Homo sapiens: one gene and its partners. The protein of the gene in region 2 purifies or fractionates together with the protein of the main gene of each other region. This does not show direct contact. Each region holds a gene or a part of one and is shown on either strand. Other genes may lie near its edges.

Region 1 (3,500 bases), on a different chromosome or scaffold from region 2:
ACCATGTTGCCCAGGCTGGTCTTGAACTCCTGGACTCGAGCAATCCACTTGCCTCAGCCTCCCAAAGTGCTGGCATTACAAGCATGGGCCACCATACCCAGCCTCAAAATGTTAATAACGACCAAATTCTATTTCAGTTTTCAATCTCTACTGCCTCCCCGCAGACTCATACATTTATTATTACCCTCATTTAAAAAATTCATTCTTCCAACTTTCTCTACCACTCTACTTTCTTTTTTGAAATGGAGTTTCGCTCGTTGCCCAGGCTGGAGTGCAATGGCGCAATCTTGACACACCGCAACCTCTGCCTCCCAGGTTCAAGTGATTCTCCTGCCTCAGCCCCCTGAGTAGCTGGGATTACAGGCATGTGCCACCATGTCCAGCTAATTTTGTATTTTTAGTAGAGACAGGGTTTCTTCATGGTGGTCAGGCTAGTCTCAAACTCCTGACCTCAGGTGATCCGCCCGCCTCAGCCTCCCAAAGTGCTGGGATGACAGGCATGAGCGACTACCCCCGGCCTACCACTCTACTTTCAAGCGTCTCCTCTGACTCTTCTTTCATCTCCATAGACTCAAGTCTAGCCAACTTAGTGAGGTTCTATCCTCAGTGTCTCCTTTCTTTTTGCCCTATACTACCTTCTCAAGTAAGCCCACCCATTCTTATGGTTTCAAATAGCACCTCTATGCTGATAATGACTAAGTATTTGTCCTCTACTCTGACTCATCTTCTGAATTCCAAAACCAAATTTTAAACTACCAACTTTAACATCACTACAGGAATACTCAGTCAACACTTCAAGCTTAACATGTCTAAATGGCACAAATTATCTACATCTGTCCCTGTTTCCCCATTCTGTGTTCTTTAAATCTTGGTTTCTTCATATTTAAAAAAGAGATTTTAATATTTCTGTCCTTTAAAGTCCCATGACTTTATATGCACAAAGTTCTTAGCATAGTATAAGTACAAAGCACAGAGTAAGTTATTCAATTAGTGACAGCTGATATTATATTTTAACAATAGAAATAGTCTTCAAATCTACTATTTGCCCTCAACTTTAGAGGGCACCTTTTCACATCACAATCAGAACTGTTTGTGTTACTTCCTTGCATAAAAAGCATTAATGACTCCCCTTTGGTCTAAAAGGAAAGTTTAACAAATTAAACAATGGCTTTAACACTCTGAAATATAACCCCAACCCACCTGTCATGGGCTGAATTGTGTCCCCCAAAAAGATGAAGTTTTAACCCCTAGCTTCTGTGAATGTGACCTTATCTGGAAATAAGGTCTTTGCAGATGATCAAGTTAAGACAAGATAATTAAGATGAGCCCTCACCCAATCTGACTATGTCCTTACAAAAGGGAAATTTGGACTCTGAGACACACAAATGGGAAGGAAAACCATGGAAAGACACAGGGAGAACACCATCTACAAGCCAAGGAGTGCCTGAGGCTACCAGAAGCTAGGAGAGAGGCATTAAAGAGATTCTCCCTCCTAGCCCTCAAAAAAAAACAAACAACAATAAAAAAAAAATCTATCAACACCTTGATTCCTAAATTCTGACCTCCAGAACTGTAACACAATAAATTTCTGTTGTTTAAGCAACCTAGTTTACAGTACTTTGTTACAGCAACCCCAAGAAACTAATATACCACCTTTATATCTTATTTCCCTACATTACTTAACATAAATTGATTAGTGGCATTGCTTCTAATTCCTAAATGTGAACATTTCCAAGACTTTTGCTCATGTTATTTTGTAGCCTTCACATCTGTCCAAATCCTTTTCATCTACTGAAGGCTTTTCATCAAGTTCCAGGGAATCTTCTATAATCCTCCAATCTGAATTAATTTTTCTATCCTACGTATTTATAGAACAAGTTGTTTGCCTAATATTACCACTGTTCATTGTCCCATATTATAATTATGTGTTTACATATACAACTCCTTGACTGGTTAGTAGGATATTTGAGAGCAAGAGTTATATCGTAGTCAATTTTTATATCCTCCTTAATAACACATGCTTCATATAAACTAAAGTGGCATTTAAGTACAGATATTTGTAGCTTGGCTCAAAGAATAATAAAGTCAACAAATTTTAATATTAACAGGTATTTATAAGTTCAACATTTGCTCATCTATGGAGGCAAGTAACTTCATGAGCCTTTTTTCTGCCATATGATACAGACCAGAGGACACTGCATGCAGCTATTCAGATAATTATTGCCTTGTACTGTGTAGAAGAGTAGCTATTTTTATGGGAGAAAGGGGATGGAAGAGAAGAAACCAGGAGTCTTTGCTTAAAAATAAAATAGCAAAAAATAACACATGTACAAGGTTATTTTACTTAGCATTACTTTGCTCAAGTCACCATGGGTCTTGGCACAAGCTGTCTAATTCCCTACAAGCTAGGGTGCAAATAAAAAAATACAGGATACCCAGTTAAATTTGAATTTCAGAGAAACACTGAATAATAACTGTAAGAATGTCCCATGCAATATTTGGGACATACTTAAAGTAAAAAGTCATTTGTTGTTTATCTGAAATTCAAATTTAACTAGACATCCTGTATTTTATCTGGCAACCCTACTGTAAGTATTAACAGTGATCTCAAAAACTTCCATTTAAGGAGAGAGATTCTTAGTTTAAAGAGGCAAGACAAGTGCAATGCTGCAGTGTTTACCTAGAAAGTGCTTTTATATGCACTCAGTCATTGCTCTCCAGGTATCAGAAGTTTCCAAAGACAAGTACAATGAAATGGCTGAAAGCAGTGGTATTGTAATCCTTTTCTCAATGTACTTTAGGAATATATAGAAAGATAATAAAATTCAGGAGTATGTGAAAAGTACATAAATTTGTTCCACATTTTCTCTTTCGAGGTAGAGTAAGGTTACCTTAAAAAATCTTATCAAAACTGAAAAATGCCGTTTGGCAGGCTTTAGGGAGGACTCATCTCCCCTACCTCTCATGGTTTAACCCCAGAAACCACTCCAAATAAATACGTCACTAGAATAAATAATGGTGCACTTGCTATGCAAACCCAGTTTTAAGACAAGTCCCCTAAGCTAGATGTTCATAATGCCAAAAAAAAAAAAAAGAGATAGAAAACATACACCCATACTAACAAACATCCATACAATGAGAGACTATTCAATATCAATTAAGCAATTAAGGCAGTTAGAGCTATATACTGGCATGGAAAAATATCCATGATACAAACAAGAGGGGGTGGAAGGAGGAGGAAAATGAGCCATAGAATAGTACTGTTGTCTGATTCCATTTATATATTTATTTAGCATATACATTTAAAAGTCTGGAAAAAATACACCTCAAATTATTAACCTGGTGAAAGAGAGGTGAGCAGACAAAAGATGGATTTTCATTTTCTCAGTATGTCTGAGTTTATTGTTTTTTACAATGATCCTGGTAATTAAGAAATATCAAAATACTTTTTTCATTTAAAAATAACAATTGGTACAAAAACCAAAAAAATAAAATAAATA
Region 2 (3,500 bases):
TCTTACTGGTGAACTAAAGACATACACAAAATGGTAAAAAATCAATATATTTAATAATTAAATATAAATACGGATTCAAACTTAGTCACAGAGGATGGGAAGAAATTTCAAAGGCAGAAAAAAAGAGAAAACAAGTTCAGATTAAATAAATAAGAACACAAGCAGAGATTATTGATGAAGAAGACAAGAAACCAAGGAGACCGGAGACCAACATAGGGAGAACTTGTCCCTACAAAAAAAAGTGTTTTTAATTAGCTGAGTGGTGGCACATGCTGATGGTCCCAGCTACTCAGGAGGCTGAGGCAGGAGAATTGCTTGGGTCTGAGTGGTCAAGGCTGCAGTGAGCCGTGATTGCACCACTGGACTCCAACCTGGTTGACAAAAGGAGACTATTTTCTGGATGATGGACATGTTTCTTATCTGTGCTATTCCTACGCAGTTGCTACTAGCCACATATAGCTACTGAGGCACTTGAAATTTGGCTAATACATATGACCTGAGTTTTTAATGTTATTAATTTAAATAGAAATAGCTGCATGCAGCTAGTAACTACCAGCAAAGGCTCTTAAGACATAGTGTTCACATGAATGAGTAGTCTGCAAATAAGTGGTCTAGAACTAGGGGTTGCAAAGTTTTTATGAAGGGCCAGTTAGTAAATATTTTAGGCTTTGCAAGCCATGCTCATCTTTGCTGCAATTACTCAACTGTGTCACGGTAAGAAGCCACAGACAATAGGCAGCCACAGACAGTATGTAAACAAATGGGTGGGGCTATGTTCCAATTAGACTTTATAACAACAGGCGTTGAGCCAGATTTGGCCTACAGGCCTTAGCTTCCCAACCCCTGCTCTAGAAATATCCAAATCACCACCTCTACTACCTATCATCCTATCCACTCCAAGACTAGGGAAAAATAAAAAAGTAAAAGAAAATCCCTGACCGTAGTGTAGAAAGGGAAAGTCTCTTGTGTGTTCTGCAATCACAAGCTGGTCTTCACATAGGTTTATGGCCCAAATTCACAAATAAAATAGCCAAAAAAGTTTTCTAGTAAGAATAAGATGAAGTCTAGCACCTGGGATAAAAAAGGTCTTTTCTTCCAGGAAAAACAATTTTTATGCAAATAAGTACAATTCTCTGGTAAATATACCTTATAAAATCTTCTTTTTCTAAACTCAAACTATTTAATGAATAATTTTCCATCTAAACAAGCTTCCATCTTTAGTAGCCAGTGGTAGACAAAAAATTACTCACTTTCAGCATATATGCTTAACTTTTTGTTGAAGTCTTGTACATATATAGAAAAGCACATAAATCATAAGAGCAGAGCTCAATGAATTGTCACAAAATGAACACATTCATAAAATCAGCACCACAATCAAGAAACAGAAGGATGCCGGCATCCCAGAAACCCCCCTCGTGTACCCTTCCAATGCTAGGACCCTCTGCCCTGACAAGGGTTACAGCCATCCTGACTTCTGACTCTGTAGATTAGTTTTGTCTGTTCTTCAGCTTTATGTAAATGGAATCACACACTATGAACCTTTGTCTGGCTTCTGTCACTCAACATTGTAATTGTAAGATTCATCCATATTGTTGCATGCAACTGAAGTTTGCTCAAATTTACTGCTGGAGTCTGTTGTATGACCATGCCACAACTCATTTATCTCTTATACTGTTTTTAGATCATTTGGGTAATTTCCAGTAATTGGCTGCTGTGAATAAAGTTTCTATGAACATATTACTACACGTTTTTTGATTACGTACATATTTCTGTTGGTTGTATAGAAGTGAAACTGCTGGATCAAAGGCATGCATATATTCAGTTTTAGATAATGTCAAATAGGTTTTCAAAGTGATTATAGCAATTTACACTCCCACTAGCAGTAAACAAAACTGCTGCTGCTCCACATCCTTGACAATACTTGGGCATGTTTTGCCTTTTTCGTTTTAGCCGTTCTGGTGGGTGTCTAGTGGTATCACATTACTTTTAATTTACATTCCTTGGTGACTAATGAAGATGTAAACTTTTTAATATATACTAATTAACCACTTAGATACCCTCTGTTGTATAATGTCTGCTCATACCTTTTGCTTATTTTTCTATTGTGTTGTCTTTTTCTAATATGGAAGAATGCTTTATAATGAGTCCTTTATTAGGATATGTGCATCTTAAGTATCTCCCACTGTGGTTGCCTTTTCGTTTTCTCTTCTTTTCTTTTCTTTTTTTTTTTTTGAAACAGAATCTCACTCTGTCGCCCAGGCTGGGGTGCAGTGCCGTGATCTCGGCTCACTGCAAGCTCCACCTCCCAGGTTCACGCCACCTGCCTCAGCCTCCCGAGTAGCTGGGACTACAGGTGTCCGCCACCACGCCCAGTTAATTTTTTTGTATTTTTAGTAGAGATGTGGTTTCACCGTGTTAGCCAGGATGGTCTCGATCTCCCGACCTTGTGATCTGCCCACCTCGGCCTCCCAAAGGGCTGGGATTACAGACGTGAGCCACTGCGCCCGGCCTTCACTTTCTTAATGGTAATTTTTGATGAACAGAAGTTCTTAATATAGTACAATTTACCCATTTTTATCCTTTACATTTAGAGTTGTTTGTGTCCTAGTTAAGAAATCCTTGCCTACATCTTACTTGAAGATGTTCTCCTATACTTTCTTCTAAATGCTTTTTATTTTACCTTTCATATTTTTATCTGGACTTGAGTTTTGTGTATGGTGTGAGATAAGAGTCAAAGCATACTTTTTTCCAAAGAGATATCCAACTGTCCCAGCAATGTGTACCTAACAGATCGGCCTTTCTCTACTAAGCTCTGATGTCTTCTTTTTAAATCAAATGGTTATATGCACGTATGTGGCTCTGCTTCTGGATTCTCTGTTCTGTTCCACTAGCCTATCTGTCCTTGCTGCCATACCAGATACTCTTAATAATAAGTCTTGCTATCACAGTAATTTAAGTCCCCCTGCTTTGTTTTTCTTCTTCAAGAATAGGCTGTTCTTGGGCCTTTTCAGCCTAAGTTTTTAAATAGTAGAACTGTAGGGTTGAGGAATGAGGGGGTTCTGCAAAAGCAGATTTTCCAATTTACAAAAATATGACCAACTTTTTAAGAATCAAAACTTCTTCTTTGACTTAACTCGAAATCTACTGGAAATAGACCAACATTTGACATACCATTAATATGAATTATTGTACTTTACAACCACTCAGTAACAGGGCTGTTTTTGTTTTCCCTGTTTCCTGGCTTCAGACTGATCTATCTTATTTTCGTACTTCTTGTCTTCTCTCTTCACATCTAGTCTCTTCTTTGTTCCAAACATATTTAGCCAAATAAGGACTTACAGGTAACTGAATTCTCTTTTCTTAATTCAATACTTGTGAATCGTTCCTTTCCTCCCTTTTTAGAAGCTACGGTAGTTCTAGGGGCTTTTAAAAATTATTAGTGGCCGGGCGCAGTGGCTCACGCTTGTAATCCCAGCACTTTGGGAGGCCGAGGTGGGTGG
Region 3 (4,126 bases), on a different chromosome or scaffold from region 2:
TGCTTCTTCCCTGATTAACAGGTCTGGAGAAGCTATATGGCTTTTTGAAGATCACAGAGTTGGTGAACAGCTGCAACTGGGTCCAATCTTACATTCTTTGTTTTCTGCTACCCTGCTGTGTGAAGCTGTGAAATGAAGCCATAGTCAGTATCTGCTGCCACTTGAGCACTGTTCTTACTTCCTGCCTGTAGCCTTGGAGTTGCAGATGTAAGTCAAAACCGTGGCAAGTCCCATGGGCTCTTCCTTCTCTTTCAGGCCTTCTCTTCTCAGGCGTGGACTGCCATGAGTTTCACAACCTCAGGCCCTGGTGTAGGCTTCTACATCAGAACCCTGGGCGTCAGCAAGGCGCTGCACAAAGAGGCCTGCAACAGAAGCCAAACACTTGGGTTTAAGTCCTGGACCGGCACAGCCTTGGTTTCTCAGAGTGTTGAAGATAAGGGGAATGAGCCCCAGAAGTGGTTCTCAAGCAGGGGTGTATGGCAAAGTCACCCACGGAACTTAAAAAGGATTCCCAGGACTCACATGCAACCTAGCAGATCAGGTTACCATTTCCTAGGGTGGGGCTCAGGCATATGGTTTAAAATTCTCCCTAGTTGATTTTGATGCCTCCCCACCCTCACCCTATGATGACAATGTTTAGACTGGCTGATCTGTAGCTGCTTTCACTCCAAGGATGAATCCTGGAAATTGCAGTTAGCTGAGTTTGCATAACAAAGAAAATGCAGTAGACAGCAGGCAGTTTGAGAACAATCATGATTGGGGAAACCCTCCCTGGTAAGGATCTTGTTTATCATGATCAATAGCGAAGGGTTTGGCCAAGGAAGGCACTCAATAAGGTTCGTACTGGTTGAAAGAATGAGTGAATGAATGAATGAAAGAGCAGGCTTCACAGAGACAAAAATAAAATGTTCTTTGTTCTTCCTTTTGCACAAAAACTGGCCCCGATGCCCTTACTTAAAGGCAAATAAATCTCTAGAGATCTAAATGGATTTTTTTAATTGCCATTTTGCATTTTTAAGATCTTCAGATCGGGTATAATACATCAGAAAGGAGTCCCAATAAATAAAGGAATGCCATCCTTTGTCTGCTCTTTTCAAATTGCATTTGCAATGAATGTTATCAGCATAGCAAACTGTCTACGCAAAAAAGTGTTATTTTTGAAGGCTAAATTTGATCCAAGATGAAAGTAACTTTTAAAAATTGCATCCTAGTTAAAGATATCAATATCACACAATTTTAAAAAAGAACTATTTGTATTCTACTCAAAGAGACAACAGTATATAACATTGGTTTCTAAAACAATATTTTCTGAACCCTTGGCTGTGTACTGACATCATATGCTGGGCTGAACTTTGCATATGTGACTCAAGAGAGAGAAAAGAGATGTATTCCCATCCTCAGTCTCTGCTCTACTGTAGAAGAGTACTGCAAGCTTCTAGAGACCCAGGTTTGTCTTAATTCTTGGTGATTTCAAGTCTAAACTTAAGATGGTTTAAAGAGTCTAACACAACATTAGAGTTTAGCTACGTAGATTTGTACTTTTAAATAGGACATAATGCTCTGTAGTTTTTTTTTTTAATGTTACGTTGATAAATCGTTCATTATTACAATTTTTAAAGTCAGAGGTATTGTAACGGGATACATTAACTACCCAACTTATAAAGACTTAAGTGTTTTCTCCCGTTCGCTCTTTTGGCTTTTCCTTTCTGGTTAAGAAACTTTCATTCTTTTGAACCCTGCAATTTCTTGGCTTTACAGAGCCCCAAACCCCAAAGACACCAAGATAAGACGGGCAGGCCGGTATGGGGAGGTCCCACAATGACATCAGCATTTGGAACAATTCAAACCTTCACCATCTCTTCTCAACCTCCTATGTCCTCGCCCCCCGTAAAAGATGCGCAGGACCTCGATGGACGAGCCCACCCCTGACCCTCTCAAGGAAAGACAATGCCAGGCTGGTTTTCGAGTTTATTGTCGGCACGCTCCCCCGATGGCAGGCAGCATCCGAGGCGAGCGCGCCTGAGCCTGGGCGCTCGGAGGACGAGGCCAGGTGCATCGGGCGCATCGTCGTCTCCCAGGCGCGTCCCGCTCGCCGCGAGGGAAGGCCGGGGTTCTTCCAACCGAAGAAAACCAAAACCGTCAACGCTCAGCTCCGAGGCCCGCAGGAGGCTTTAAAAATGGCCTCCTGACGACACTTCCTGCTCGGCGCGGACGGTAGGAGCCCTCGGAGGAGGCATCCTTCATAACGCTGGGGGCGGGGAGCGCAGGCCGGGCCAGCGGCGCCACACGAACGGCCCCGCGGGACGCTGCCACCCCCGCCTCGGTCGCCCCGGCGCGTCGGCCGAGTCCGCGGGGTCGCGGCGCACAAAGGCGAGCTGGGGGCGCCGGGCCGGACCCCGACCCTAGGCCAGGCCCGCGTACCTGCTCAACGCGCGCCAAGCCGCGGCCCGGGCCCCCACCCCAGCCGGTGCCCCACGCCCACCAGCCGGAGCCCGCGTTCGGCCTACCCGGTGCCACTTGCCACGACGCCAGCCCTCAGCGCGGGCACGCGGGGCCGCGGCCGCTCGACCCGCCCCGGCCTGGCCCCGTCAGGCCCCCGCCCCGCGCGCCCCCACGACCCGGCCGCAGCTGGCGCTTCGGTCACGTACACGCGGATCCGGGGGCCCTCGCCCTCCCGCTCAGCTACTTACCCGGCAGGCCGGATTCGGGTGCCAGGTCCCGGCGAAGGGGCGTCTACACCGCCGGCCGCAGACCGCCGGCGCCGCGCCCGCTGTAGGTCCCTACCCGGGGGGCGGAGCCCGCGCCAGCCCCGCGCGTGCGCAATGTGAAGCGGCGGCGCGGCTCCAGCGAGGCCGGCGCCTGAGGTCTCTAAGGCTGCGCCCGCCCCCGCCGGGCTTCTAAGCTGTCCAGAGCGGGGAGCCTCAGACCCAGCCGAGCCCCACTTCTGGGCTTAGAGCTTGACCCAACACGTTCGCACCGTAGCGAGCGAGGTCCACATTTAGCCATGCCGCAGGCAAAAGAAGGATTCGGCTTCGGTCCTGGCCCAGTCTGCCATCCCGGGGCGCCTGCCTTGTACCGGGTCCCGCGGAGGGCGGCCTTGGCGCCTGCCTCCCTGGAGCCTGCAGTCCTGCAGTGGGTGAGTGAAAGCGAGAGAAGAGGAGCTCAGGTCCTCAGCCTCCAAACTCGTCTTCTTGGAGAGCTTCAGTGAAGGAGATGGCCTTGAAGTCCTGGGTACAAATCCTGACTCTCCCTACTCCTTTACATCTTAGCTGCTGGACCTTGGCGAGAAAGTCCCCTGACCTCTCTCAGTGTCTTCATTTCTGAAGACGGGGAAGGTCGTATGTGAGGCGCAAAGCCTCCTCTAGCAGTTGGGCGTTGCGAGGGTCAGAGGGGACAATGACTGTGGGAGTCTGGAGAGGGTGTGAGCTCATTTAATGCCAGAGTTTCTTTCCTGCCTCCTGGACTTCGGTGCTATTTTGGGCGAGCCAACTGCCCTCTAGATACACCTGCATCTACGGTCCGGAAGGAAGACATATTTAGAATAGAGCCTCTAAGAGGAAAGAAGAAGACCATATTGCCAGGTCCCGCACAATCAGTGACTCCCCACAAAGTGAAACAGCTCTCCAGCAGGGGCAGGTTGAGGCATGGGAGCAGCGTCACTGGGAAGTACAGTTTCTTCGGGATGAACAGCTAAAGTTTATTTCAAAGCTCTGGAGGCGGGGGCGGGGCAAGGCTGGTTTCCATCACCTTCCTGTTGGCGGCCAAAGGTCGGCGTGCACGGACAGCGGCCAGTATGCTGCACGGAGGAGATGTGGGCCTGGGCAGTACTGCCACACGGAGAAGCGGAGTTGAAGAAGACAGGCTCAGCCACAAGTCCAGCAGCTGGGCAAAACCTCCACCACTAAAGTATCAGGAGCTGGGCAGAGAAAATAGCAGCCCAGAGAGCAAATCCTTCTTCCTGCCCTAGGCTGCAGTGCTCCTAACCTCGGTCCTGATCAGGGAGCTGCTAGGGTCCTGGTTTTCTATCTCCTAGGGCTCAGAAAAGCTAAGGAACCTCTTCTCAGAAAAACACATTTATGTGCAGATAGCACCTATCAGAGAGAATATGCCAGAGAGTTCAAAGTCT
Region 4 (3,500 bases), on a different chromosome or scaffold from region 2:
AACTATGGAAAACAGAGTAGCAAACACAAAGAAACAGAAACTGTAGAACTAGAGATCTATGGAAAGAGAAAGCAAGCATTGTGATACTTAGCTTACAGGAAAGAAAGCAGAAGGTACCCACAGAGAGGCTTAGATATAATACTGGCAGAACAATTTACAGACTAACATTATGAAAAAGAAAATTTTCAAGGGAGGATACAAGATCTCCTCCTCAGGACACATTTTCTAAAAGGACCTCTGAATGCGGAGGGCTAGTCTTTGATACTTAAATTTTACTATAAACAAGGCAGACTTATTTGGATTATAGACTCAGTCTTAAAAATTCTTTTTAGGAGGTGGGCGTCATGGTTCATGCTTGTAATTCCAGCACTTTGGGAGACAGAGGTGGATGGTCGGAAGTTTGAAACCAGCCTGACCAACATGGTGAAACCCCGCCTCTACTAAAAATACAAAAATTAGCCAGGCGTGGTGGCGCACATCTGTAGTCCCAGCTAATCGGGAGGCTGAGGAAGGAAAATCGCTTGAACCTGGGAGGCGGAGGTTGCCGTGAGCCGAGATCGCACCACGGCATGTCAGCCTGTTTGACAGAGTAAGACTCCATCTCAAAAAACAAACAAACAAAACAAAACAAAAAAAACAACAACACACACACACACACTGTATTAAAATACAAAACAAACACCAGCATATAATGGAGACACACACACTGCACAATTCTTTTTGGTATATAATTTATGAAAGTATGTCCTAACTGTGCTACTATCAACCCACACGCCAGTATTTCATCAGTAGAAGAATACTTTTAAATGAGGCAAAAGGTTTTTGTTCATTTCGGTCTCTAAAAGATAAAGACACTTTCCTCTGTCCAGCTCATTAACTTACAAAATATTCAAGTCAATAAAGTGTCACAAGAGTAAAAATTTAAAAATATGTAACATTACACTCATCTACCTTTAGGATAAGAAGACAAAAAATAGACAAAAGTTCTATTTCAATTTTACACTTTAAGCTACTTAAATGAAGCAGGAGAAAAAGAAGAGTGTGTGTGTGTGTGTGTGTGTGTGTGTGTGTGTGTGTGTGTGTGTGTATTTTTTTTTTTTTTTTCCAGACAGGGTCTGGCTCTGTAGCCCAGGCTGGAGTGCAGTGGCACCATCTTGGCTCACTGCAACCTCCAACTCTTGGGCTCAAGTGATTCTCCTGCTTCAGCCTCCAGAGTAGCTGGGATTACAGGCGCCCACCACCACGCCCGGCTAATTTTTGTATTTTTAGTAGAGATGGGGTTTCACCATGTTGCCCAGGCTAGTCTGAAATTCCTGAGCTCAGGCGATCTGCCCACCTCGGCCTCCCACAGTGTTGGGATTACCTCCCAAAGTGTTGGCATGAGCCACCATGCCCGGCCAAGAATATTTTATTGAAAAGGAAACACAAGTAGGGGCCAAAGATTTCAGATGCAGTTTGAAAGCCTCAATTTCTTAAAAAGAAATAAAACCAAAGTTATCATTAGATAGGCTCACTTACCAAATTAACAATTCTTAAATTTCACTGGGAAGTTTAATCGAAATGGAGTATTTCAAGGCTAGTACCTTAACTCTTTGGACTACTGATGGTCAACTACTGACAGTAAAGTATGAGAAAAATTCAGATTTTAAAAATTTAAATAAAAAATTAATGCCTCTGAATCATTCCAATCTAGCTAATCTAAGCCACATCAAAATGCTACTGTATATCCAGAGTAGCTCATGAATCCTCTAAATGTATGTGTGCAGGCTCGCGGCAAGCCTCCCGCAGCACTTACCTGTGATCCACCTCCTCGGTCTGTGATGACTCCTCTGTCTCCCTCTCTGCTCCCGTACCCCGAAGCGCTGCTACGATTCCCAGGGGGAGCGCCTCTCACACTGTGCCCTGATACTTCTCTCCCAGATCGTTCTGGCCTTTCAACTCTGTTAAACAAAACATAAAAACATACATGATCAAAACTGTAATCTTAACTTTTTTTAACCCCAATGCATGAGACCACTAGGAAAGCATTACATAGTACACAGCTACCTTGTTTCCCGTTTGTCAGTGGACATGCTTCCTTCACTTTTCCAGCTGGTGGGTCTGGAAGGATTGGGCCCTGCCTCTCGAGGATGTCTAGGATGAGTGATATCAGGCCTGTCATGAATAATCACCGTTCTCCTTTCGTCTCGCTCCCCTCGTACTTCTCGCCTGTCTGATTCTCTAAGTTCATTTCTTGGTGGTGGAGGCTCATTTCTTCTGGAGTCACTGAAATTTTTGGGATATCTTTCGAAGCTTGGATCTTCCCTTCGTGCAGTAGGTCGTGCTTTTTTCCCCTCACTTTGACCAACAAAGCGATCCCGCCTATTGATTAGAAACAAAGAATATAGGTCCAAGAAGTGCTTACTTGAGTGCTTAATTCTTCTTAACTTTGTCTGCATAACCTACAATAATGAAACCAAAAAATGAACTTAAGGCAAAGCCATGGAAAAAAGCTAGTTATTGATTATTACAACTCATTTTCTTTTAAACTGAACTAAGTGTCTAGCCTAAAGGTTGGTTTTTTAGCATTCAGGAGAAATGATACCGAACACTCAAAAGTCACTACCAAGCTGAAGAATGTTTTACTGTTCTTAACAGTTGAGGCATATCCAAAGCAATCAGTGCTTCCACAGTTTTAAAGATAAGAAGAGGCGGGGAGTGGTGGCTCAGGCCTGTAATCTCAGCACTTTGGAAGGCTGAGGTGGGTGGATCACTTCAGGTCAGAAGTGCTAGACCAGCCTGGCCAACATGGCAAAACCCCGTCTCTACTACAAATACAAAAATTAGCCGGGCATGGTGGTGGTGCATGTCTATAATCTCAGCTACTTGGGTGGCTGAGGCACAAGAATCGTTTGAACCCACGAGGCAGAGGTACAGTATGCCAAGATTGCACCACTGCGTTCTAGCCTGGGAATCAGAATGAGACCCTGTCTCAAAAAAAATTAAAATAGAATAAAGATAAGAAGATAAAGCCAACCTGCTTAATGGTGTTCTAGTTAATTAATTTGGAATACTGAATCACATTCCCATTAACAGAAACAAAAACCACGTAAATTGTTCTGAGCATTCAGTTCTGACCTGGTACTTCCAGTTAAGATTTTAGGAGAAACAGAGTTATCACTAGCAAGGCTCATAAAATAAATATAACAATTTTCAACATATCTACCTTTCAAAAGATGAAGACTGTACTGCTGAACTCTCAGGAAACCTGCCCCTCTCTCGGTGATCAAAGTCATTAAATCTGTTCTGTTGGCGAGAGTAGTCGGATCCATGGCCAAATCGTGCATCTGTATCTAGAGACAACTTTTTATTCTCGCTCCAGTAAGGATCATCTCGCCTTGAAGAGAAATATTTGCTTATTTACATAAATTAGTTCTACAGTAATCAAACGACATTTACTTGGAGTCATACATACCACATGTTAGAACTGTGGACATAACAGGGCTAGTAAACTCAAGACA
Region 5 (3,361 bases), on a different chromosome or scaffold from region 2:
CTACTAAAAATACAAAATTAGCCAGGCTTGGTGGCGCATGCCTGTAACCCCAGCTACTCGGGAGACTGAGACATGAGAATTGCTTGAACCAGGAGGCAGAGGGTGCAGTGAGCTGAGATCGCACCACTGCACTCTAGCCTGGGCAACAGAGTGAGACTCCATCTCAAGAAACAAACAAGAAAATATAATTTAGCAGTTTTACCTATATCCACAGTCATTTTCTGCAACTTTTGAGATGATCATTTAGCTTTTCTTATTTGTATGCTGATACAGTGAACTATGTTTTTTTTAAAACATTGGATCAACTTTTATTCCCAGGATAAACCCTACTTGGTCATGATGTATTCTTTTTATAATACTATGACCAGATTTCATATGCCAGTATGATAGATGACAGTTTTATAAAGTCCCAGTGACCTTATAATAAACATAACCCTAAACATACTTGTTTTCTTATTGCTTTTGAATAGAAACTGAGTGTCTTAAATGCTGTCACAAAATTTGCCATTTAGAAGGAAATTTTTAATTAAAAAAAACCTTATAGCTTTCAACTCATAAAATCACATGGATTAAAAAAAAAAGCTCACCTTTGGTATACAGATAATGACAAAATGTGCATTCAAGAAGCCCTAACAAGAAAAGCCTGAAGTAATTTACATGATGAAAATAACTCCAATAGAAAGGGATTTTTAGTTGATTGCCTTCCCTTCTGCTTTGGGTAGCCACACCAGAATTCCTATATAAAATGCTTAAGAGATACAACATGATCAAAGTTATGGCCGGAGGTCCTGCTGTGAAGCTTCATTTACATAACAAGTATTCATTTTCTTAACTATTTGTGTTACAGAACAATAAAAATAGATAACTTTTCTAAAATTATTTTTATTCACATTTTACATAAGATTGAAAAAATGTCAGTTGTTCACTACCAGAAAATGGGGAACTAATCACTCTGTTTGCTTTTGTACCTGTAACATTAAGGTTCTGTTTCCCAGACCCCAGAGATAAGACCTACAGGTTGTGTTTAGTGCTTCAGAAAAAAAGGAAACTAAGAAAGATAGCTATCATAAGAACATTTCACATTAAAAGACAGAGTAGATTGATTTTCTAGGTATTTTTGTTTTTGAGACAAGGTCTCACTCTGATTGCCAGGCTGGAGTGCAGTGGTGTAATTTTGACTCACTACAGCCTCAACCTCTGCAGGCTCAGGCCTTCAAAGTAGCGAGGACTGCAGGTGTGCGCCACCACACGCAGTGAATTTTTTTATATTTTTAGTAGAGACAGGGTTTCACCATGTAGCCTGGGCTGGTCTAGAACTCCTGGACTCAAGTGATTCACCCGCCTTGACCTCCCAAAGTGCTGGAATTACAGGCGTGAGCCACCATGCCCGGCTGAGTTTCTGCTCTTAAAAGAAACAGTGGGGAAAAAAAGAGAAGACATATTCTCATTTCAAAGCAATTTATGTTAGTAATAACTGAGCAAAATGATAGAATTTTTTAGTTGTGTGTTTTCAGAAGTAATGTCAAATTTACTTCAGATAATTTAAAAGGTTTTTTGCATATTAAATGGTTAATAAAGTGGTGTTATTATACTAAAGAAAAAATGCAAAACCTTTTTTACAGAATAGTATAAATGTTTATTTTCTGTATGATTTACTTTGCTGTCCTGTTTTTACAATATAGAAAAGTGTATTCTTTGAATAGCTCTAGTAAATATAAATTTAATCTTTCTACTTTGGGATGTAAATAGAGCTAAAAAATTATATACCCAACCCTCCCCAAATAGTCTTTTAAAATCATTGAATTAATGTGGCTATTCATCTTGTTCAGCAATTTGATGCAAATGCCTGAATACAAAAAGTTATTTAGTAAGTACTACACAGGAAGGAAAAGGCTTAATATTTTAGATAGATAGATTTTTGAAAATCAGAAAAACTAGTAGCATTTGATTGCACCTTGAAATTTTTTTACAAGCAAAACATTCGTAAGCAATGCCATCATACATAATCTACAATTGTAATCAAAATTTCACGAACATTTTCTGCACACTGTATATAAATACACATCACAAAGGTGCAATTAGAATTAACACAGAGTATGTACAAAATGAACAAAGTTTAAGTTTAGACCAAAAACTTATTGCAATCTTTTGAAAAATAACTTGATTATTATTTTACCCTCTTACACTAATTTACATTTATACAAATTTTAATTAAACATACTAGATTGAGGTGCTAAGAATGTTTGAACTATCTACATTTAAAGTTACTGCACTATGATTTTATAAATCCAAATTTAAAAGGAAGATACTTTAGTGAATAACGGAATCCTCTTTTGGATTACTTAATTTCTATTGCCTATATCTTGCATGTTCATATGAACATATATACACACTTAATACATACAACTATAGAGTCCTTGTAGGAAATGAAATAATCATATACTAATTACTGATGATTAAGGTACCTAACAAAATGCCTGAATTCCAACATGGTTTTTTCTTGTCATAAAATCAAGAGTCCTGTCACAACAGGCTCTTAAATTCATAGAGTTTTTGAATACTGAAAATGATTTAGGTTATTTTAGTAATTATAGGAAAACAGACCTTCCAAATCACTGGCTGAAAATAATGCCATATTAAACTTCCCTTATAAAAAGAAATCCCACCACAATTTTGAAAATTTTGTTAGGAGGCCCATTTCTGTAAATCAAGTAAGAGTTGCGATTTGGTTTGAAACCTCTTAGTTCAAAAGTCTATAAAAAGGGCCTGGCACGGCGGCTTATGCCTGTAATCCCAGCACTTTGGGAGGCCGAGGCGGGCGAATCACGAGGTCAGGAGATCGAGACCATCCTGGCTAACACGGTGAAACCCCGTCTCTACTAAAAATACAAAAAATGAGCCGGGCATGGTGGCATGCACCTGTAGTCCCAGCTACACGGGAGGCTGAGGCAGGAGAATCGCTTGAACCTGGGAGGCAGAGGCGTTGCAGTGAGCTGAGATCTCACCATTGCACTCCAGCCTGGGCTACACAGCGAGACTCCGTCTCAAAAAAAAAAAAAAAAAAGTCTGTAAAAATAATTGATTGTATAGATGAAAACTTCTCTAAATTCATCTTTTGCAGCTTCCCTATTCTTTGTTTCTCCACCCATGCCAAATTTTATACTTGATTACTATGTGAGGTTCTATATTATCACTACATAATGTTTACTTCCATTTATATCCACCTATCATTTTAATAGTACCCAGTAATCACTTTGACAATTTATTACTTCAAATACATACCACCTCTTTGAAAGAAAATGGAGACAGCCCAGAGCATCTGTTAGCCTTTCCTTATTATAGAAACACATTGCCCATCCTC
Region 6 (3,500 bases), about 110 Mb from region 2:
ATCCACATACATCCCAAAGTGCTACTATTCCATAAGAAATATGAAAAGTTTCAGAGCCATTCCGTACAGGATCAAGTGCAGCTGGCTGACACTGATAGAGTCTATAGTTTGTGCTGAAATGCTGGCCCAAACATTTCATCTACCAACTCATATAATTTTCTTTCTTTTTTTCTTTTTTTACAAAGTCATTTATCTCTACCCTTGAATCAGCAGCTATTTTGATGACAACTATCAGATTGGTGGTCTTCATCCAACTTATCCGAAAGAAATAAGGAAGGCAAGTAGTTAGGGCACCTTGCAACTCTTCATTCGTTTTCTCTCGCCTGGGGGCAGGAGCAGGGAGGACCCTATTTTCAGTTGACTGTGATGCGGGAACTTCTTCTTCATCTGTTAAGTCCTCCATATCTCCAAAGAGAGTGGCCAGATTTTCCTTTTCGTCTCTTGTCTCTCCTGTTTCTCCATCATCAGCCTCTTCTGTATAAGATTCACCGTCGCCGTCGGCATCAAAGAGCTCATCAAATGCGTCGGGCTCGCCATTTTCCCGCGTCAAGAAGTTATTTTCTTCTGAATTACAATCCAAGGCTGACTCATTTTCTTCCAGCAGTGCGGTCAGCAGAGACAGATTGTCTTCCTCCTCTAGGGGAAAAGAAGAGAAAGGACAGAGAATAAGCACGGCTAATTCCAAACATTCAACTTTAGGCAATTTAAATGACCCCATGGGGGTAAGAGAAACTACCTAATGGGTACAATGCTCATTACCTGGGTGATGGGTTCAACCATACTCCAAACCTCAGCATCACACTATATATACATCTCTGTAACAAGCCTGAATCTAAAATGAAAGCTGAAACTAAAAAAACAAACAAACAAACAAACAAAAAAAACAAAAACCTACAGATGCACCATTTTGCCTGGTCTTTGTTCTCCTTGTCTCCATCTTTCTTGTCCCCAGGTGCTTCTTAGGGGACACTGGGCTAAGAAGGAGCCAATACTGCTTAGTGAGTAGAGTGGGCCAGCCACGGGGCCAAATGTCCTCAAGCATTCTACTCCAATCAATGAGACAGCTTCCCGCACACCGACTTCCATGAAATTCAACCAACAAGGGAATAATTTTAAAACACCAAACATAGATTTAGGCTTTAGATGTATATAATTCCTGACCTTCAAATTATTTGAGATTTAAAAAAAAAAAGATACAAACTATATAAAAAATACTAAGATCCCATCACCCAGAATTAGCCATCATTAACATTTTGTTGTTTGCTTCTTGCCTTTAACATTAAATAACACCTTCCAGATGAAGTCTGTCATGCCAAATCTTATCCCAACTCCTGACCACTGCCCCCACTTCCCATTGTAATCACTTTCATAATTTTGAGGCATCATTCCAGTCCATTCTTATGCTTTTACATAAATATATAGGCAGTCATAGTCAATCTATATTAGATGGTTTTAAAAATATTTACATAAATATTCCACACTGCATTACTCTGCATTCCAGGTTCATTCAACATTGCTTGTAAGATTAACCCAAATCAAAACATATAGTTCTAGCCAGGCGTGGTGGCTCACGCCTGTAATCCCAGCACTTGGGGAGGCCAAGGCAGGAGGATCACCTGACATCAGGAGCTCAAGACCAGCCTGGCCAAGAAAGTGAAACCCCGTCTCTACTAATAATACAAAAATTAGCTGGGCGTGGTGGCCCGTGCCTGTAATCCCAGCTATTCAGGAGGCTGAGGCAGAAGAATTGATGGAACCTGGGAGGTGGAGGTTGCAGTGAGCCGAGATCGCACCACTGCACTCCAGCCTGGGTGACAGGGCGAGACTCCATCTCAAAAACAAACAAAAAACCCCATATAGTTCTAGTTTCTTTCTTTTCGTTGCTATATTGTATCCTATAATAAGACTGTATCACACCTCATTAATCCATTTTCCAATAAAGGACAATATGGGCTATTTCTAATTTTTCCCCACTACTAAATACGCTGTAATCGTGTATCCGTCTTCTCGCACATGTGTTTCTTGGGAATATCTATCAGAAATGGAATTGCTGGATTGCTGGGTATCCACGTTTTCCAATTTTGCTAGATGCTGCCAAATTGTTCTCAAAGTGGATGCACTCTTGAAATGGCATAGTTCGTCTGGGGTAATACCTGAGGTTCGTTGTCTCATGCAAAGGAAATCAAGGATGCTGACACACAAGGAGTGAGGTTAAGTGCAGAGATTTAATAGGCAAAAGAAAGAGAAGAGCTCTCGGCAGCAGAGAGGTCCCAGAGAAATGGGTTGCCGCGTCCATGGCAAAATGCATGGGGTTTCATAGACGAGCTTGAGGACGCAATGTCTGATTTACACAGGACATAAAAGATTGGCTGGACTAGGTATGCCATTTGCATAGGGTGGAAAACCTGGCTGCCCCACCCTAATCTTTTATTATGCAGGTGGTTCTCTACCTGGCCAGCGCCATATTGTCTGTTTCTTTACTGTACACGTGGTTGACACAGAAAAAGGGCCGCCATGTTGAACACGCCTGGCCCCCAGGGAGCCTTTTCCTATTGGCACAGCTGCAGGTATTCATCCGTGCAAATTACTAGCTTGCTTTTCTATGTCCGCTTGATTTTTCTGGCTGGCCTTGTTAGAAATTACTTGGGGGCTGCTTTTTGCTAAAAGGGAAATTCTGCTGAGGACTCTGTTGCCCTTACTATCTCCCTAAATAATTGCTATCATCTGTATCACTCTCACTAGAGCTGTACACAAGGGCCACTTCTCCCCACCACCTCATCAATATCTGATGTGTCACTTAAATATTTTTTTGTCAATCTGATGGACGATTTAAAAAGGCATCTCACTGTTTTGATTTGCATTTCTTGGATTACTGGTGAGGTTAAGAATTGTTTGTTTATTTGCCAATCGGATTTCTTCTTTCTTGATTTATCTATTTTCTTTGCTCTTTTTTCCCCCCTATTTGGGCACTATTTGTTTATAAAATCAGAGGTATTCAATGGAAAAATATTAAGGATATCTGACCTACTCTCCTTGTCTGAAATTCAGGGGCTAGAGTATGAGAGGGTGAGGGGCTTGTTCAGGATCACATGGAGAAACAGATCAGTTCAGGAGCTGGGTTAATAAGGAATCTCTAGATCAGCAAACCAATATCCTTTCCACCACTCTACACTCCCTTACCAGAAGGAAAAAGCCAGTAGCCAAACTTCAGGCCTAGAATCTGATGATGGGGCCTAATGCTCAGTCAGAGGTTGTATAAGGATTAGCTTGAGTTGCTTAGTCCACAAAGACTCCAAGGCTGCACAGTGCAAGAGAGAAGAGGCCAGGCAGCCCCCTGTGCTCTGAGAATGTCACATGCCTGCAAGGAAGCAAAGAGGCCTCCACCATCTCTTGTTCCCGTCTGCCAAAGAGGGCACACCCCGGGAAGAGGCTCTGGCTCACACCACTGGGGGCCACAGGTGGAAAATGCTGCCTGGGGACCCCATACTATTCACTTTGAA
Region 7 (4,186 bases), on a different chromosome or scaffold from region 2:
CCAGTGCGTGGGGGCAGAGCGGAGGATGGGAAGCTCGCCTTGACGGCAATCACACTCTCACTGACTGTCCGGCGGGGCTCCCGGGGGCTGTCGCCCACACTGCCCACTGACTTCACCATCCTGGGCTTACCAGGCTCCTTCTGGCAGACCAGAAGAGGATCTTCCACACTGCAGGTCCCCCTGGCTCTTGTTGGCCTCGAGGGCTGCAGCTGTCCCCGAGGGGGCTCACCTTCACCTTCCCGGGGCCTTTGGTCACTCCAGGGGGTTTCCTCAAATTCTTCCAAAGAGCCCCGCTGGGCCCCTGAGGCACTGGCAGAGCCAGACTTTGATGGCGGTTTAACTTTGATGACCACGTTCTGACCCTGACTGAGCTGGACCTGTCTCTCAAGGACATGCTGCTGCGGGACAGGAGGCTGGCCCCCCCGGGCCCCGTGCAACGGCCGCACAGCATGGTCGGCAGGAGGGTCTGAGGGTCCCGGGGGCCGATTCACGAGGGAGTATTTCTTGCGCCACGAAGGCCCATGGTGGGAAGAGTAGCCCCTCCGGCTTGGACGAGGGTAGCGGGCACTAAAGGCTCTGCCACTGTGGTAAGTGGGTGGCTGCCACCCAGAAGCTGCTGGGGTACCAGGGGCCGGGGCATTGCCGTGGAGGGTTTTGTAGTCATCAATCAGACCTGAGAAGACAGAACCACAGGCCCAGTTAGCCAGAGGGTAACCGCGATAATCATGACTACCCTGGAAGGGCATCAGCTGGCAAGATACCCCCAGATCCCATCTCACTTCTGAGCCCCTGCCAGTTTCAGGAGGGGCAGCCCCCAGAGCCTGGGACTCACTGACAACTCAGCCCGCGTCACCTGGGCCTGTCGCTTCTATGAGCCTTTTCTCCATCAGCTCCACTTCAGTCCTACTTCTGCCTGCTTCACACAGAAATGAACCGTGTGGTGTAACAAGCCTTATTTGCTGGTCTACTGAGTCCACAGTCATTTGCTGAGACGTGTCACTCAGTCTGAAGAGAATCGCAATGATCCCCTCTGCACTGTTTGAATCAGAGGGGACAAGTGGCCGCACAGGCCCTCTGGCTTGCCTACAGATGGAAAGGAGTCACTCCACTGAGTGTAACAGAACTGACACTCTCGAGGACCCCATGCCTGACAACAGGAAAAAAGAATACTAGGAGCAGAGGCCATTGCTCTGCCAGATTCATAGTCTTCCCTGCAGAAGAGGAAACATCAATGGGCTAGAGTCCTACTGCAGTGAACTGACACAACCACAGGACTTTCCAAATAAGTCCCTGGATAGCTACCCCGGTGCAGGAGGGCCAGGAACACAGGCAAGGGCGGCAGCAGCCAGCCTCCCAGTTATCAGCATTCCCCCACCACAGGCCCTGCCCCCGGGGGCACAGAAAGCCACGTCCAGACGTGTTGACGCCCCAGAGCAGGTGTGATGGGAGCTCAAGAAGTGTCCCCAAGTGGGAGGCAGCCCACCTGGCCTCTTATCCATACACACTTTCCCAATCCTTAAGTCTTCCCTTTGTGAGAGTAAAAGCAAAAAGGATTTTTAATTTTTAAAGCTTTTTTTTGTTTGGTTGGTTTTGGCTTTTTATTTGAGATGTGGTTTTTCTCTGTTGCCCAGGCTGGAGTGCAGTGGCCCAATCACGGCTCACTGCAGCCGGGACCTCCAGGGCACAAGCAAACCTTCCACCTCTGAGTAGCTGGGACTACAGGCGCAAGCCACCACGCCCATCTCACTTTTTAAAATTTTTCTGTAGAGACGGGCTCTCGTCATGTTGCCCAGGATGGTCTCAAACTCCCGGGCTCAAGCCATCCTCCTGCCATAGCCTCCCAAAGTGCTGGGATTACAGGTGTGGGCCACTGCGTCCGAACATGGATTTTCTTTTTAAGTTTAGAAAGACCAATTTGGGTTTTTTAATGTTTAAGTGTGGAAGCTGAAGCCTGTTCAGTCTGCGCCTGGAATGGCAAGGGGAGTGTGACTGTTCGGAGAAAAGGGGCATCAAAACCGGGCGTCGAGGCTGGGAGCGGTGGCTCATGCCTGTAATCCCAGCACTTTGGGAGGCCGAGGCGGGTGAATCACCTGAGGTCGGGAGTTAGAGACCATCCTGGCCAACATGGTGAAACCCCGTCTCTACTCAAAATACAAAAATTAGCCAGGCGTTCTGGCGCCTACCTGTAATCCCACGTACTCCGGAGGCTGAGGCAGGAGAATCACTCGAACCCAGGATGAGGAGATTGCAGTGAGCCGTGATCGCGTCACCGCACCCCAGCCTGGGTGACAGAGCAAGACTCTGTCTCAAAAAAAACCGGGCGTCAAGGAAGGAACCCGCGTGCGCCCTTAGCCTGCTCTGCCGAAATGAGCCATGAACTAGTCCCAGCCCCGCAGTGGGGCGCGGGGAGAGAGTGGGCGCCGGGGGACGCGACAGCCCGCGGTGGTGGGGAGGGCCGCCGCCCCCCGCGGGTTACTAAGCGACGGCCCTGCCTCCACCCTCTGCAGCCCCAGCAGGGCCGGCACCACTCCCTCGACAAAGCTGGAGCCGGGGACTGACCCGGGCCCTGAGCCGGCCCACAAGTCCTGGCGGACCCTACCGTCCCCCACCCCAGCCGCCACCCAGAACACGCGGGCGGTGAGCGACCCCTTCGACAAGGGGGCAGGGGACCCGCCGCGAGGTGAGGGGGAAAGAAGGGGACTCGCGTCCCGGCCCCGGCCGGACCTACCCTGCAGTAGGCGGATCTGCCGCCGTAATATCTCCTTTTCCTCCATCTCCCGAGTCCGCGACGGCCGGCCAGGCCCCCACGACGTCATCGCTACGCGACCTTTTTCCCGCGGGCGGGGCGGAGCGGGCCAGGGCGGAGCTGCCAGGAGCAGGCCCGGATGTCTGCCGACCGCCGAGGACCCGCCGTCGCGCTGACAACGGCAGCGGAGAGGCAGAGCCGCGCACGCGCAGAACGAGGCGGGGACGTCACTAGTGAGCGCCGGGAAGTGGCCTGGTAACGGCTGGGAAGGGACTGCTTGGGCTCTGGGAGGCCGCGCGGGCCCAGCTTGTGCAGTCCGGGATCGCGTCCCCTTGGGAGACTTGGCGAGGGGCGAGACCTGGGGCCCACCCAGCCCATACCGCAGTTCCTTCCCACAGTCCCTGCGTTTCATTTCGCCCCAGTTGAGTGTTGGGGGGGGGGGGGTCTACGCGGGGACCCATGGGAGAAGGGCCAGTTAACAATTACTCTTGACCCAGGAGGGTCTGTGAAACCTCTTACTGTGGCCAGAGGAGAAGACATCGGAGAGCAAGGTTCCCTGGATAGACATGTTGAACCTCTGAAAACATGAAAGTTTTTAGTTCGTCATTGGAAACATGTACAAGTGTAAACCTCTGTGCGCTGTTGGTGGGAATGTAAATGGCGCAGCACCGCAGAAAACTATGGAGATTCCACAAAAGGTTAAAAGTAGAACTACCGGATATGAGGGCGATCTGGCTGCGACACCTGTCATCCCATTGATCGCCAGGGTTGATTCGGCTGATCTGGCTGGCTAGGCGGGTGTCCCCTTCCTTCCTCACTGCTTCATGTGCGTCCCTCCCGAAGCTGCAGCTCAGTCGAAGAGAACGACCATACCCAATAGAAGAGCTGGGCTTCCCTGGTAGAACCTCCAAACAAGCTCTCAAGGTCCATTTGTAGGAGAAGGTAGGGTAGTCAAGATTCCAGACACATCCAAATGAGGCGCTGCATGTGGCAATCTGCCTTTCTAGGAGAAAACAAAAATGGAACTACGGTATGATCCAGCAACCCTACTTCTGGCTATATTCCCAAAAGAATGGAAACCAGAGACTCAAACATATTTGTGCCCCCATGTTCACTGCAGCATTTTTCCCAATAGCCAAAAGACGGAAACAACCCAAGTGTCCACGGGTGGATGGAAGGATAAACAAAATGTGATCCATACAAACAATGAAATATTTTTCAGCCTTAAAATGGAAGGAAATTCGGCCGGGCGCAGTGGCTCACGCCTGTAATCCTAGCACTTTGGGAGGCTGAGGCGGGCGGATCACGAGGTCAGGAGTTTTGAGACAAGCGTGGTCAACATGGTGAAACCCCGTCTCTGCTAAAAATATAAAAAATTAGCCAGGCGTGGTGGCGCACACCTGTGGTCCCAGCTACTCAGGAGGCTGAGGCAGAAGAATC

What was found.
Region 1: the proteins of IKZF5 (region 2) and ELF2 purify together in Homo sapiens (affinity purification with mass spectrometry; 2 studies listed by BioGRID and IntAct, with this or other methods). This does not show direct contact.
Region 3: the proteins of IKZF5 (region 2) and ZNF518B purify together in Homo sapiens (affinity purification with mass spectrometry; 2 studies listed by BioGRID and IntAct, with this or other methods). This does not show direct contact.
Region 4: the proteins of IKZF5 (region 2) and SLTM purify together in Homo sapiens (affinity purification with mass spectrometry; 2 studies listed by BioGRID and IntAct, with this or other methods). This does not show direct contact.
Region 5: the proteins of IKZF5 (region 2) and LIN54 purify together in Homo sapiens (affinity purification with mass spectrometry; 2 studies listed by BioGRID and IntAct, with this or other methods). This does not show direct contact.
Region 6: the proteins of IKZF5 (region 2) and MCM10 purify together in Homo sapiens (affinity purification with mass spectrometry; 2 studies listed by BioGRID and IntAct, with this or other methods). This does not show direct contact.
Region 7: the proteins of IKZF5 (region 2) and ZC3H3 purify together in Homo sapiens (affinity purification with mass spectrometry; 2 studies listed by BioGRID and IntAct, with this or other methods). This does not show direct contact.

What each region holds. Positions count from the first base shown.
Region 1 is NC_000004.12:139,128,719-139,132,218, forward strand, and holds part of ELF2 (ETS-related transcription factor Elf-2), read right to left. Parts: intron 1-3,500. UniProt on the Homo sapiens protein: Isoform 1 transcriptionally activates the LYN and BLK promoters and acts synergistically with RUNX1 to transactivate the BLK promoter. Isoform 2 may function in repression of RUNX1-mediated transactivation.
Region 2 is NC_000010.11:122,998,796-123,002,295, forward strand, and holds part of IKZF5 (zinc finger protein Pegasus), read right to left. Parts: intron 1-3,500. UniProt on the Homo sapiens protein: Transcriptional repressor that binds the core 5'GNNTGTNG-3' DNA consensus sequence. Involved in megakaryocyte differentiation.
Region 3 is NC_000004.12:10,454,627-10,458,752, forward strand, and holds the start of ZNF518B (zinc finger protein 518B), read right to left. Parts: upstream 2,801-4,126; 5' UTR 2,691-2,800; intron 363-2,690; 5' UTR 179-362; exon of another isoform or gene 1-178. UniProt on the Homo sapiens protein: Through its association with the EHMT1-EHMT2/G9A and PRC2/EED-EZH2 histone methyltransferase complexes may function in gene silencing, regulating repressive post-translational methylation of histone tails at promoters of target genes.
Region 4 is NC_000015.10:58,885,180-58,888,679, forward strand, and holds part of SLTM (SAFB-like transcription modulator), read right to left. Parts: intron 3,377-3,500; coding exon 3,206-3,376; intron 2,442-3,205; coding exon of another isoform or gene 2,423-2,441; exon of another isoform or gene 2,362-2,422; coding exon 2,047-2,361; intron 1,941-2,046; coding exon 1,796-1,940; intron 1-1,795. UniProt on the Homo sapiens protein: When overexpressed, acts as a general inhibitor of transcription that eventually leads to apoptosis.
Region 5 is NC_000004.12:82,924,103-82,927,463, forward strand, and holds the end of LIN54 (protein lin-54 homolog), read right to left. Parts: 3' UTR 501-3,361; downstream 1-500. UniProt on the Homo sapiens protein: Component of the DREAM complex, a multiprotein complex that can both act as a transcription activator or repressor depending on the context. In G0 phase, the complex binds to more than 800 promoters and is required for repression of E2F target genes.
Region 6 is NC_000010.11:13,168,058-13,171,557, reverse strand, and holds part of MCM10 (protein MCM10 homolog), read right to left. Parts: intron 637-3,500; coding exon 295-636; intron 1-294. UniProt on the Homo sapiens protein: Acts as a replication initiation factor that brings together the MCM2-7 helicase and the DNA polymerase alpha/primase complex in order to initiate DNA replication. Additionally, plays a role in preventing DNA damage during replication.
Region 7 is NC_000008.11:143,538,648-143,542,833, forward strand, and holds the start of ZC3H3 (zinc finger CCCH domain-containing protein 3), read right to left. Parts: upstream 2,801-4,186; 5' UTR 2,775-2,800; coding exon 2,729-2,774; intron 674-2,728; coding exon 1-673. UniProt on the Homo sapiens protein: Required for the export of polyadenylated mRNAs from the nucleus. Enhances ACVR1B-induced SMAD-dependent transcription. Binds to single-stranded DNA but not to double-stranded DNA in vitro. Involved in RNA cleavage.